Linked DNA regions of Homo sapiens. The protein of the gene in region 2 purifies or fractionates together with the protein of the main gene of each other region. This does not show direct contact. Each region holds a gene or a part of one and is shown on either strand. Other genes may lie near its edges.

The links. The genes of interacting proteins can lie anywhere in the genome.
Region 1: the proteins of LSM12 (region 2) and DCP1B purify together in Homo sapiens (affinity purification with mass spectrometry; 2 studies listed by BioGRID and IntAct, with this or other methods). This does not show direct contact.

Annotation. Positions count from the first base shown.
Region 1 is NC_000012.12:1,959,431-1,966,457, forward strand, and holds part of DCP1B (mRNA-decapping enzyme 1B), read right to left. Parts: intron 6,264-7,027; coding exon 6,128-6,263; intron 1-6,127. UniProt on the Homo sapiens protein: May play a role in the degradation of mRNAs, both in normal mRNA turnover and in nonsense-mediated mRNA decay. May remove the 7-methyl guanine cap structure from mRNA molecules, yielding a 5'-phosphorylated mRNA fragment and 7m-GDP.
Region 2 is NC_000017.11:44,063,645-44,070,945, forward strand, and holds the start of LSM12 (protein LSM12), read right to left. Parts: upstream 3,028-7,301; 5' UTR 2,944-3,027; coding exon 2,820-2,943; intron 291-2,819; coding exon 157-290; intron 1-156. UniProt on the Homo sapiens protein: Nicotinic acid adenine dinucleotide phosphate (NAADP) binding protein. Confers NAADP sensitivity to the two pore channel complex (TPCs) by acting as TPC accessory protein necessary for NAADP-evoked Ca(2+) release.

The DNA.
Region 1 (7,027 bases), on a different chromosome or scaffold from region 2:
CTGAGTGGACATTTTTCAAAAGAAGACATACATGTGGCCAATAGGTATGTGAAAAATGCTCGACATCGCTAATCATCAGGGAAATGCAAATTAAAACCACAGTGAAATATCACCTCAAACCTGGTAGAATGTCTACCATCAAAAAGGCAAAACATAAGTGGTGGCAAGGATGTACAGAAAAGGAAATCCTTGTATACTGTTGGTGGGAATATTAGTTAGCATAGCTATTATGGAAAATAGCATGTTGGGCCAGGTGCAGTGGCTCACGCCTGTAATCCCAGCACTTTGTGAGGCTGAGGCGGGCGGATCACGAGGTCAGCAGATCGAGACCATCCTGGCTAACACGGTGAAACCCCGTCTCTACTAAAAATACAAAAAAATTATCCGGGCATGGTGGAGGGCGCCTGTAGTCCCAGCTACTTGGGAGGCTGAGGTAGGAGAATGGCGTGAACCCAGGAGGTAGAGCTTGCCATGAGCCAAGATTGCTCCACTGCACTCCAGCTTGGGTGACAGAGCAAGACTCCGTCTCAAAAAAAAAAAAAAAAATTTATGTTGGCTCCTCAAAAAATTAGAAATAGAACTACCACATGATCGAAGAATCCCATTTCTGGGTATATATCCAGGGAAAATGAAATCAGTATGTTGAAGAGATAGCTGCATTCCTGTGTTCACCACAACATTACAATAGCCAATATATGGAATAAACCTAAGTGTTCATCAATGAATGAATGGATAAAGAAAATGTGGTGTATAAACACAATGGAATACTATTCAGCCTCAAAAAAGAAGGAAATTCTGTCATTTGCAACAACATGGATGAACCTGGAGGACATTACATTAGGTGAAATAAACCAGGCACAGAAAGGCAAGTACTGCATGATTTCACTCCTACATGAAATCCAGAGAAGCTGAACCCACTGAAGCACAGTAGGCTGGTAGTTGCCGGAGGCTGGGGGTAGGAGGATTTTGGAGATGTTGGTCAAAGGATACAAACTTTCAATTAGACAGGAGGAATAAGTTCAGGAGATTTATTGTACATCATGATGACTACAGTTAGTACTAATATATTGTATACTGAAAGTTGCTAAAAGAGTAGATTTTAATTATTTTTGCCACACAAAAATGATAAATATGTGAGGTAATACATGTGTTAATTAGCTTGATTTAGGCACCCTATAATATACATGCATATCAAAATATCATGTTGTATACCATACATAAATATATACAATTTTAATTTTTCATTGAAAATAATTTTAAAAAGAAAACTTCAATAAAAGTAAGTCTAGCACTGAAAACCATCTCAGAAGTCTTTTAGTTTAATACTTATCCAACACAAGCCAAATTCTTTTATCACATCACCAATATGTAACTGTTCAATCTCTTCTTGAACACTTTAAGTAACGGAGACTCACTTCCCAACAAGAACTCTGAAGGAACATTCTGTTTTCCTTCTCTCTCGCTACCTTTCCATTTCACCCCCTTTCTTCTGTCTCAGAACCACTTTACTCAGGGTCTCCACATTTTCTGAAATATCTGTGTGTGAGTGCAGAGACAACACAATGTAAGAAGGCGATGGAATGCTCTTTCCAAACATAAGGCACTGGCAGCTAGCAGGGTGCATGCACACCTAGTTAGGCCGGCCAAAAATAAGGTGATGGAAAAAGAACATCTGAAACAGGCCCTGAAAGCTGGATCATATTTTGATGGGTGAAGAAGGGGTGGGAACAGTATGAGAAAAGTCATGAAAGCACTCTCAGGAAGCAAAATGAGTATTCTGTTTGGCAGGAGTTTCAAATATTTGTAGAGGGTAGTAGGGTTAGAAGAACAAACTGAGGCCGTCTTAGGGAAGGCTTGAAGACTCCAAGGGTTCCTGTACTGGGCAATGACAAACCAAGAAAAACGGAGACTAGGAAAGTAGCGTGATCATGCAGGTGTCCTGGCACACTGTATCACAACATCTGGCTGTTAATGGAAGAAGAAATAATTTCCTCTATTATTTATCTCACAGTTGGAGCAACTGACATTACGCATAAAACAACATGTATTTGATTTTTACAGAAAAGCACCTTCTATACACGAATTAAGTGTCTGCACTTCATGTCAACATTATAACAAATCTGTGAGGGCATAAAGATGAACAGAACATTGTTTTAACTTCAACCAGTTTACAGTGTACTGGGAGAAGTTGACTTAATGTAATAAATGAGGAAGAACAAAATAAGTTTTAAATAGTAATAGACTGAGTTCACATGGAAGAATAATTAATTTGACTGAAGAGACCTGGGAAAACTCCACGTAAAAAGTGTCATTTTTACTAAGCCTTAAAGGATATGTAAATTCTGAAGGGTAAATAAAGTAAGGGGAAAAATATTCCAAGACATAGGCACAGTATAAAGTGATGGCCTAAATTAAATCTCCAGAACCGTATATGAGTGTTTCTGAGAGAGACAGAGAATGTGTGTGCTTGTGCTGTTCTTTTATGTGATGGTCACTCAAGTGAGGCCAGAGAGGAGACACAGGAGAGTCTCAGGAAAACAAAGTTTATTATACTCACAGGTCCTGGAGACAAGAGGCATGCCACGCTGCACAGGGCCACGTGTGGAAGCCTCAGGGTGTCAGCAGCAAGGGGAAGGCGTAGGCTAGAGCATTTACTGAATTTCCTCAAGGAAGGCAAGGCAGGGCATGGTAAACAGGTTAAGATTGGCCAGTTTGAATAACTCCAGCAGGCTCTAAACTGTATGAGTGGTCCCCAGTTGCTGGGTACCTGGCCCTGGGATGATTAAGGCAGAGGAATATTGTACAGGCCAGAGACGAGGAGATACGTATGGCTCAGGATTGGTTAGTGTGCATATTAAAGGCGTGCTCCTGGCCAAGCCCTTTGCTATCTCTGAACACTGGCTGGTCACAGGAGGGGCAGTCTCCCCAGCCAGAAAGGATTTTAAGATGTCAAAACATTATAACATATAGAAGATAAAAAACAGAAACAATACAAGGTATGTGTGTGTTGAGAGGAGGGAGGGAAAGAAAGGAAAATAATTTTTTTCAATATTTGTATTTATTTACCATTGTTACACTGTCTTCACAGAACATTAAGTTCCTGGAGGGCAGAAATGTCACCTTTTGAAGATTAATCTTTAGTGTGCATAATATAGTATAATTAATAAAGTATAACTAATTATTCAACTAGTTGCCAAGTCATCATAATTTTTTTTAATGACTTTTGAAGAATTAAAAAAACACAAAATGAATACAGAATAGTTACTGTCTGAAGCTGAGATTAAGGCATCTCTGTCCAGGCCATACAATAGAAGGATAATTAAACTGTGGCTCATTCACATTCATATTCCTTCCTTCACTCAATAGCCATTATTTAACACTCACCATGTGCTAAGTACTTTGAAGACAATAAGGGATATAAAAGTGAATAAAGGATGTTCTTCGTACTCAAGAAGCTCACAGTCAAGGCAAAGCATGTTAAAGAAACTTGTCTAACTGCCTATATGTGCCACTTCATTCAGGATTTTTCTGATTGCTTCCTCATAGCATCATTTAATTTGTTTTTCTACCTTGTCTCCCCTCACTCCCCACCCACTTTCACTTTCTGTAAACTAAAAAGTTAGAGCTCAAGGCTTAATGAGATTCAGGATCAACTCTTTGGGCAAGAATATTTCAAGATGGTGCTGTACATTTGACATCTTATCACATTAGGAAGCCAGAGAATCTGGTTATCTAACTTTTAATGATGATAATCAGCGGGGTTCAGGAGGAGGCAGCCTGATCCTTCCACTGTCAAGTTTCTATCAACCTTTCCCATAACATTAATATTACTGATGATCACTGCCTGAGTCAATTATTTTAAGCAGAGTGTCTTTAAGTTCTATTATTCTCTCCACACGTACTAGCTGGAATTCTCTGGTAGAGAACAGCTCTCCCTCATTGACCAGGGCTGTTTGATTACTCTGAGATATAGTCCCTTTAGGGCAGGCAGGATAAAAGCTTATTTCATTCCCATTAATTATCAATTTTCAGAGGAAGGAGTTGGTGCCTTAGCACCTTCAAACGGATAACTAATAATTATTTTGCTTGGTTTTATATGTTTGGTTTGCTTGTTCTCTTTCTCATTACCAGGAACTCATAGATTTTTATACATTCAATGTGGTTTAATCCATTGTAGTCACTCCTGTTGATGTTAGAATGTGGTGCTCTGGTCAGTGTCCTTGAAGCTGATTTCTGTGTCCTTTCACATGACCCTATTGGTTTTACTATTCCAGACCTGGAATCAGAAATTTCTTTGAAGAGCCCTGACACCTTCTGGAAGGAAGTAATATTTCGAAACAACAATCTGGGTGATATAGATGCTTACTGCTACTGAGTTAGTCACTTTTATTTTTATGTCCTTTCAGGGCAAGAGTGAGAAACTCTATTTTTTGTTTTTATACCTAAGAAACAAAACATGAACTAATTCTGATATTTCCACTTAATCTTATGTAGTTTTAACTTATTAGATTTGATTTTTTTCCCCTTACACTAAGGTTTTGGTTCCAACCACGTTTATCTAATTTCATATTTATTATATCCACAACAGTAGAAAAATTACAATGCCAACAGTAGAAAAATTAAAATGCCAACATTACTACAAACAATAAAACCAATGAATGAAGTTTATAATGTCTTGCAGTTCTTTTTGTCCTTAAAATATAACCCACTAAGAGTGTTCAGTTCAAGCAGCGGGCTTTGAAGTCACTCTAATTTTTTTTCTAAGTAATTATGTGACAATATGATATTCAATTACATACATTTATTTCAGCTAGTTTCCAAATTCTATAATTTTTAAAAATTTTTATTTTTTGCCCATTTTTCTAGTGTTAATCTTGTACTTCTTAATTTTTAGGAGCTCTTCATAAAATAACCTTCCTGTCATTCTGGTGTCAACAATTTTTTTCTGAGTTGTTTTTGTATCTTTCTATTTGCTTGTGTTGTATTTAAACCTTGTAAAATGTTTTTTATTTTTATGTAGTTTAATTAATTGCTTTTGGGTTTTTAGGCATAATTGAAAGATTTCTCTTTTCCTAGATTATAAAGAAATCCATACAAATTTTCTTCTGGTACTTGAATCATTATATTTTTACATTTAAATTTCTAATACATTTGGAATTTATCCTGGTGTATGCTGTAAGGTACAGACTCAGTTTTGTATTTTTCCAAATGGCTACCAGTTGCCCCAACACCATTTATTTAGGAATTCACTCAAATAGCTGACTTGAGATTATCATCTTTATCATATCCTAGATTTCATATACAATTGGATTTAATCCTAGACTTAGAATCTTAAATCTGTCCCATTGGTCTATTGGGCTGTTAGGTATCAATACCATCAACACCATACTGTTTGAAATGTTGACTTCAATGTTTTAAAATCAGGGAGAGCTCGCTCCATCCCCCCACTCATCTCCCCCACCTCCAACCCCTACTAATATCACACTTCTTTGCCAGGATTTTCCCAGCTATTCTTTCTTGCATATTTCTTTCCATGAGCCTTACACTCAACTTGTCTAGATCAGAGAGTAAGGGAGAAGTGGGGAGGGGAGGGGAAAAGAAACCAGTGGTATTTATTTAGTGGTCACCTTAAATGTAGAGATTTTTTTTCTAAGAGCTTTATGTTGAATCTTCTTATCCAACAACAGGGTGTATATTTCCATTTGTTTGAGTCTATTTTTATGCCTTTCAGGAGTTTTTAAACATTTTCTTTATATAGGTTTTGCCCATTTCTCGTGAATTTTATTGCAAACAATTTTATATTCATTTGTTGCTACTGTAAGTTGGGGTCTTGCAGTAAGTCTAACAAGACTTACTACCAGTTGTGTATATGAAGGTTATTGTATACATGAAGGCTATTGTATATATGAAGGCTACTGATTTCTCAGGCTATTTTTTAACCCACTTAAAGGCAAACAGTTTTCTTCAGCTTATAAAAAATCTATATTACAAATAAAGATTTTTTATTTGTAATATAATTTTGTTTGGTGGAAGGAACAGCATCCACAGTACCTAGTCTTGCTAAACAAGAATATTCCCACTGCGGAACTGAAGTGTGTATGTATCACAAGGAAGGGCAAACACTCACCTTTGTGTATTCGTCTTTGGCCTTGATGAGCATTCGTAAAATGTCTACTTCTTTGCCCTCTCCTGAATTGAGGATCACTGGGGAAATTCCTGCTCCAGTTCCCTGATGGGCTTTCAACTGTTCATACTGAGTTAGGCTAGAAAAACAGAGGGGAAAATCCACACAAGAAAAGCCAATTCAACACAAACAATGTTTAAAACCATCCCAATTCTCACCTAGTTGTTTTCATCCTGTTACAACCATATTAGAAATAAGCTTGCTTAGGAATTTAAAGGAGAAAAATGAGAGTTGAGGTCCTGAATTCACTGACTACACAAATGAATCTAGGATAGGGGTCAGCAAATCTGTGGGCCAAGTCCAGCCCACCACCTGTTTTTTGTAAAGAAAGTCACAAACACAGCCAAGCTCAACACAGCCATGCTCCTTTGTTTACATGTTGTTTATGGCTGCTTTCACATTACAAGGGCAGAATTCTATAGTCGGAACACAAATCCTATGGACTGCAAAGCCTAAAATACTCACTCTCTGGTCCCTTTGAGAAGAGTTTGCCAACTCCTCACACAGTGCATTCTAAAGGATGCTCTCATTAGTTGCTAAGGAAACCCAATTTAGAGTTCTGAAATACTGAGGAAAGAACCCCCTACTTTACAGACTGCCTTGAAGTCAAGGCAAGGTTGATTCTGGCAACTCAAATCCTGCAGCTCTCTGGCAGTTTCAAAACATGGTAAAGATTCCATTCTAACTCGGAGAAGAGGGGCCATTTAAAAAACCACTTAGAGCAACGAGGAGTTCTTCTGTTGCCTGGAAAACAATACAAAGATAGACCAGATTGCTCCTATATGCTGCTAGGTGATGTCGAGGAAAATATACTTTCCCTTTATGTGCTGTAACTTTCAGCTC
Region 2 (7,301 bases):
GAAAAACTAAACCTACATTTTTTAAAAAGATATCAGAACAAACAATTTTAAGTCAATTTTAAAAAATAAAAAATAGACAACAATGTATCACTAAGACTCAATGAGACTCATCTTTCCCACCATTTTAGAGAGCCAGATCTGCCCTTGAGTCCTTACCTTACTAACATTGAGTGAAGCTAGGGGAGGAGGGGTTTCTGTTCGGTCATTAATTATTTCCACTTCTGAAACATACTGTAAGTTTATGAGCAAGATGTCTGCATGGTTGGGCTTTCCACTGGAAGAGGGACATTCTGGTGAGAAAAAAAAAAGTTAAGGAAAAATAGGACAAGCAGAGGCACTGACACATCCCAAAAGGGGCATAGAAAACACGATTCACACAAGGCTTGTAAAAGGCAGGCCAGGAGCATGAGGGCCTTATAAGAATCACGGTTCTCCTCAGGAAATCTCTGCCTGTCACCTTCCTCCTGCCCAAATCCTTGGAAGCTTCCAAAGGAGTTCTGTCACTTTCTCTCTACTGGCTTTATGGAGAGGCATAATGCAGATTTAATGCGTTTGTCTTGAACCTATGAGCCAGACAAAAGAGCTAGACCTTTCTGTTCTTCGTATAATACTCTCTGTGTCTGCACAGTATTCTTTTTACTCTTTCAGATGTGAGCTTTCCCATTTTGCAGAGGAGAAAACTACACACTGGAAAGGAAATTCACCCAAGGTGACCCAGCCAGTTAATCCATTCATTCATTCACAAACTCATTCTCCAACCATTTAAGAGCCTACTGTATGTCAAGTAAAAGTTGAGTAATTCAGCCAGGCTCACGTGATGGCTCACGCCTGTAATCTCAACACTTTGGGAGGCTGAGGCGGGCAGATTACTTGAGGTCAGGAGTTCAAGACCAGCCTGGCCAAAGTGGCAAAACCCCGTCACTACCAAAAAAAAAAAAATTAGCCGGGTGTGGTGGCACATGCCTGTAATCCCAGCTACTCTGGAGCCTGAGGCAGGAGAATCACTTGAACACGGGAGGCGGAGGTTGCAGTGAGCCGAGATGGTGCCACTGCACTCCAGCCTAGGTGACAGAGCGAGACTCCGTCTCAAAAAAAAAAAAAAAAAAGTAATTCCTAGTTACAAGACCCTTCCAACTAAACCACTAATGTAAAAGGTCTTATTTCTTCCAGGTGTAACCTCTTATTTTTTTAAAAAAGCAACTATTCTTAGGCCGCGCGGTGGCTCACGCTGGTAATCCCAGCACTCTGGGAGGCCGAGGCGGGTGGATCACGAGGTCAGGAGATCGAGACCATCTTGGCTAACACGGTGAAACCCCGTCTCTACTAAAAATACAAAAAATTAGCCGGGCACGGTGGCGTATGCCTGCAATCCCAGCTACTCGGGAGGCTGAGGCAGAAGAATCGCTTGAATCCGGGAGACGGAAGTTGCAGTAAGCCGAAATCACGCCATTGCACTCCAGCCTGGGCAATAAGAGTGAAACTCCGTCTCAAAAAACACAACAAAAAAAAAAGCCGGGCGGTGGCTCAGGCCTGTAATCCCAGCACTTTGGGAGGCTGAAGCCAGCGGATCACGAGGTCAGAAGTTCGAGACCATCCTGGCCAACATGGTGATACCCCATCTCTGTTAAAAAAAAACATATACAAAAATTAGCTGGGCGTGGTGGCGCGTGCCCGTAATCCCAGCTACTCCGGAGGCTGAGGCAGGAGAATCGCTCGAACCAGGGAGTCGGAGGTTGCAGTGAGCCGAGATTGCGCCACCGCACTCCATCCTAGCGACAGAGCGAGACTCCATCTTAAAAAAAAAAAAAAAAAAAAGATGCCATAAAAAATTACTCCTCCAAAAAAAAATTCCAATAAACCCACCTGTGGCTCACATAAAAAGGGAAGCCGTGGCACATTTATCCCAACAAGGAAGTGTTTCATTTCCAAGACTGAGTTTCCTGGAGTAATTCAGAAGTCACTTCCACCCCAAAGAAGCAGGCCACCTTTTCCAATCAGTTTAACATTGCTACTTTCAAAAGGGAGGCTGCTACTACGTAAAAGGACTCCATGTGCTGGACTGATCAAGGCAGCATGAGAACTTCACTCTTTCACCTGTAACTCACACATCCCCAAACCACATAAGCCCCTGGCAAGCCCTCTCTGGAACAGGTTTCCAGTGCAAACATCCCCTAAACAGCAACTTCCAAATGACCGAGAAGCCTAAAAATCAGCACAGCCCCCCCACCACACATACACACGCATCAGCGAAACAAGCCACTATCCCTAGCTCAGATACAAACTCTGCCCTGAACTTACTCTCCCCCAAAACAGGCAAGGACCAATTTGGTCACCATCCCACCGCCCTTCCTTGGACGAAATCCCATCAGTGCACATGCCCTCCTAAATTCCATACCTTTGCCCTACCAGCAGTTCCTTACCCTAAACACCCCTCCCCATAATATTTCACCCGCCCCTCCTTTCCATCCGGGCTCCAATCCATCAGCCCCCTCCCACCACCACCCCCTCTCCTAATTACTGTGTCCCCTCTCATAACGTTCCCCCCAAAAAGCCATCCCCGTGTCAAGCCCTCCTCCACCCACTGATCCTCGGTAAAGCCCCAGCTCCCGCAAAGAGAGAGAGACAGGATCCCCAAAGCTGACCGAAGGGCCCGCGGGAGGGGGAGGGGAGCTCAGGGCCGTGCGCATGCGCCCCGGGCGCCGCGGTAGCCGGTCGCCCCTAGGCCCGGAGAGAGCCCCAGCCGCCGCCGTCGTCCCCCACCCCCCGACCACCGCACCTACACGCCGGCCCGGACTCGGGCTTCACGCAGGGAAGGATACTTAAAGCCAGCATTTTGGATTGGTAGTCAAAGGCTACCACCTCGCCCTGCAGCCGCTGCTCCTGGCACGTCCGGCACGACACCTGGCTCCCAACGCTGAAGTACTCGCCCGGAGGAGCCGCCATCTTGGGAGTGCAGCCGCGGCCGGCGGCGGCGGCGGCAGCAGCGGGCGAAAGCCGGGCCCCCAGTGAGCGCCGCGACGCGACGGCGCGCACGGAGCGTGCTTGCGTCACACGCCGGGGCGTGGCCTGGCGCTGGTTGGGGCGGGATCCTAGGTGGAGTGGGAAAGAAGAGGAAATAAAGGGGAATCTGAAAAGTATTTGTATAGCTGCGTCCGCTCGGTTAAGTGCTTGTAGAGTCCATTTTAGAAGTTAAGGATAAATGACCTACGTGGAATGAAAAGGGGAAAGAGGAGGGAGCTGCAGTCTCCATTATATGCACACCTTCCACACAAGAGTTTAATGAATGAATTTTATAAAATATGTTAACCCCATTTTGCATATGAGGAATCAGAGCCTCAGAGGACTTAACGATACTTGGACAAGATGATTATAAGGCTGGGAGCGGTGGCTCACGCCTGTAATCCCAGCACTTTGGGAGGCCGAGGCGGGTGGATCACCTGAGGTCAGGGGTTCGAGACCAGCCTGGCCAACATGGTGAAACCCCGTCTCTACTAAAAATACAAAAATTAGCCGGGTACGGTGGCGCGTGCCTGTAATCCCAGCTACTAGGGGGACTGAGGCTGGAGGATCTCTTGAACCTGGAAGGCGGAGGTTGCACTGAGCCAAGATTGTGCCACTGCACTCTAGCCTGGGCAACAGAGCGAGACTCTGTCTCAAAACAAACAAACAAACAAAAAAAGATGATTATAACTACTGAGTGATAGTGGAAAGAACATTGGCTGTGGAGTTAGATAAGCTGGAACCAGAATCCGAGGTCAGCCTCTTACTAAATCACCTGACCTTGAGCAAGCAAATTACCTGATCCTGTTTCTTCATAGGCATTTGTATTGTCACTTCTTGAGCATCTAACAGCCCTTTGAGGTAGGAATCAATGTCCTCCTTTTACATAAACTAAGTTTTAGACTAAACTTGTCCACGGTTCCACAACTAGCAAAAACAGTCTGCCTATTTCCAAGGACGGTGCTATTTACTGCTATACTCTGTTACATAATAATACCTACCTCATAGTTAGGAGGTTTAAATGCGGTAACGGGTATAAGTGCATGGCATGTACTAGGTCTTTAATAAATGGTAGTTCCCCCTTAGTCACCCATCACTCTTAGAAGTCAAGACACTTCCCCTTCTCCCTTTTTGCCCTCTCTCCCAGAAAGCCAGGCAAAAGGCAGGAATGAGGAGCAGCGGATAGTGACAAAAAGGGGCTTGGAGGAGGGGTTTTGCGCCCCTGCCCTTGAATGTCCGTCTGATGTACAAAACAGTCGTTTTCTTAATCTTATGCAAAGGACTATGAGCGTGCATTTTCAAGCCCTACTACCACCAATGGCTGTCGCTAACCCACCCACCGCTCACTATAGAAATTTTGGATCCTCGCTTCATGTATAAGAAACAGGTTGACCTTTCTCTAGTCCAGAGGGAAGCAAAGGGCCAGTCTTGGCGCGGCTTAACCTGAACAAAGTTCAAAAGTATTTCCTTGCCCTCCAAGAAACATAAACTTCCTGGTGTTGGAAGTATTGATACACTCATTATAATAGGAATAAAAATTCTGCTCCTTCATAGTGTGCTTTTTCAGAGAACTTTTTTTTTTTTTTTTTTGAGATAGAGCCTCGCTCTGTCACCCAGACTGGAGTGCAGTGGCGCCATCTTGGCTCACTGCAACCCGCACCTCCCAGGTTCAAGCGATTCTCCTGCCTCAGCTTCCGGAGTAGCTGGAATTACAGGCACGAGCCACCATGCCCGGCTAATTTTTGTACTTTTAGTACAGATGGGGTTTCACCATGTTGGCCAGGCTGGTCTCAAACTCCTGGGCTCAAGCAATCTTCCCGCCTCGGCTGGCCTCTCAAAGTGCTGGGATTACGGGCGTGAGCCATGTGGCCGGCCTCAGAGAACTTTCATGCCTCTCATCCTTGTTCTGGCCCCCATAATAAATCATACATAATTGCCATTCCAGTTTTCCACTTTTTATATGGAATCGTGATTATAGGTTTTCATATAAGACTTCTAGGAGCCATTAGGAAAGGCCTTCTTGGAGGAAGTGAAAAATCTCTACTGAGACCTGAAGGATTGGCAAGGAAAAAGAGTGGCCATGTTCCAGGCAGAGGGAACTGCACGGGCCAGGACCCCTAAGAGGAGAGAACTTGGTGATTTCAAGGAATGTATAGGTCAGAAATATTACAAAGCGGAGTGTGGGAGTAGGCTGCTTAAGGTTGAGGGCAAACCTCAAAGACTCGGTAAACAATGTAGGCTTTCTCTTCGGCAATTAAAAACTTCCTGGTATTGTCCGGGCACAGTGGCTCACGCCTGTAATCCCAGCACTTTGGGAGACCGAGGCGGGCGGATCACGAGGTCATGAGATCAAGACCATCCTGGCTAACATGGTGAAACCCCGTCTCTACTAAAAATACTAAAAATTAGCCAGGTGTGGTGGTGGGTGCCTGTAGTGCCAGCTACTTGGGAGGCTGAGGCAGGAGAATGGCGTGAACCCAGGAGGCAGAGGTTGCAGTGAGCTGAGATCGCGCCACTGCACTCCATCCTGGGGGACAGAGCGAGACTCCGTCTCAAAAAAAAAAAAACTTCCTGGTGTTGGAGGTATTGGTATAATCATTGTAATAGGAATAAAAATTCTGTTCACTACAAAGGCAATAAACGAAGATTTATATCCAGCTTCCCTCCTTTACACCTTTTTTTTTTTTTGGAGACGGAATTTCTGTCTTGTTGCCCAAGCTGGAATGCAATGGCACAATCTTGGCTCACCACAGCCTCCACGTCCTGGGCTCAAGCGATTCACCTCTCTCAGCCTCCTGAGTAGCTGGGATTACAGGCATGTGCCACCACACCCAGCTAATTTTGTGTTTTTAGTAGAGACACGGTTTGGTTTCTCCACGTTGGTCAGACTAGTCTCCAACTCCTGACCTCAGGTGATCCACCCACCCTGGCCTTCCAAAGTGCTGGGATTACAGGGGTGAGCCACTGTGCCCAGCACCTTTTTTATTTTTTATTTTTTTTTATTTTTTGAGATAGAGTCTCGCCCTGTCGCCCAGGCTGGAGTGCAGTGGTCCCATCTCGGCTCACCGCAACCTCCGCCTCCCGGGTTCAAGCGATTCTCCTGCTTCAGCCTCCCTAGTAGCTGAGACTACAGGCGCGTGCCCCCACGCCCAGCTAATTTTTGTATTTTTAGTAGAGATGGGGTTTAACTATGTTGGCCAGGCTGGTCTGGAACTCCTGACCTTGTGATCCGACCGCCTCGGCCTCCCAAAGTGCTGGGATTACAGGTGTGAGTCGCCGCGCCCGGCAAAAAAAAAAAAAAAAAAAAAACTTTTCAAGAACAAAGTTGATTGAGGTAGGAAGAAACTAAGGAGACACTGTTCAACAGTATTCTAGGCAGGACCTCGCCTAGAATAGCTGAGATTTCTATTTTCTATGTGAGTTCCCCCAGATGACTGTTTCAAACTCTGTCGCGGGTGTGTGCCAATCCTCTTCCCATACCAACACTGTTACTATCTCTTGGTTTCATCTGCCTAAGCAGGGTTTTGGATGGCAGGAGGATGGGGGTGGGGGAAGCAAGGGAAGAACTGGAAGGAAGTGTGACTTTGCGCTATATGTGAGAATTCGCCTTTTTAGGGAAGACCCCTCAAAATCAAGAGACTTATCTGTCAGCCTCCAGATTAATAGCAGGCGAATTAGAAAGGGGGAGTCTTGAGGCTGGGGAGGAAGGAGTGAACTGATTAGGGGTGTATGCAAATTTAGGATCCCGCTTCAGCTCCCAGGAGGAGGGGCTGTCTGCAGCCTTTTCTCCAAAGGATCTCAGATTTATTTATTTTTTTGCTGTTTGTTTTTTTTTTTTTTTTTTTGGTGGGTATTGGTGCTGGAGAAGAGAGGTCCGGTGGGGAAAGAATCCCGGCCCTGGAGATTATATATCCGCCTTCGCATCAGCGGAGCAGGGACGCTGGGAGCGCGCGCGGCCCGCCGGCTAGTCAGTCCCCTGACCCGGAACCGCACTGGTGCCGCCGCTAGCCGGCTGCCCACGTGCCTGCAACAGTGGCCACGTGGGGCCCTGAGGAAACGCCTTTACAAAGGTTTGTCCCCTGCGCTGCCCAGTAGGGAGGAAAACCGGAGGAGAGCGCAGGAGGAAACAGTACCGGCTGGAGGCCGGTCTTGCAGGAGCGGGGGACTGCTGGGGGCGGGGCTTGGTGGTGACCGCTGGCGGGGCGGGGCCTGGGGCTCAGAGGGGTGGGCTTTGGAGATCAGAGGGTCGACGCTGCTTCGTTGCCTGGACTCTGGTTTCCGCCCTGGAGCAAGCCGGGGCC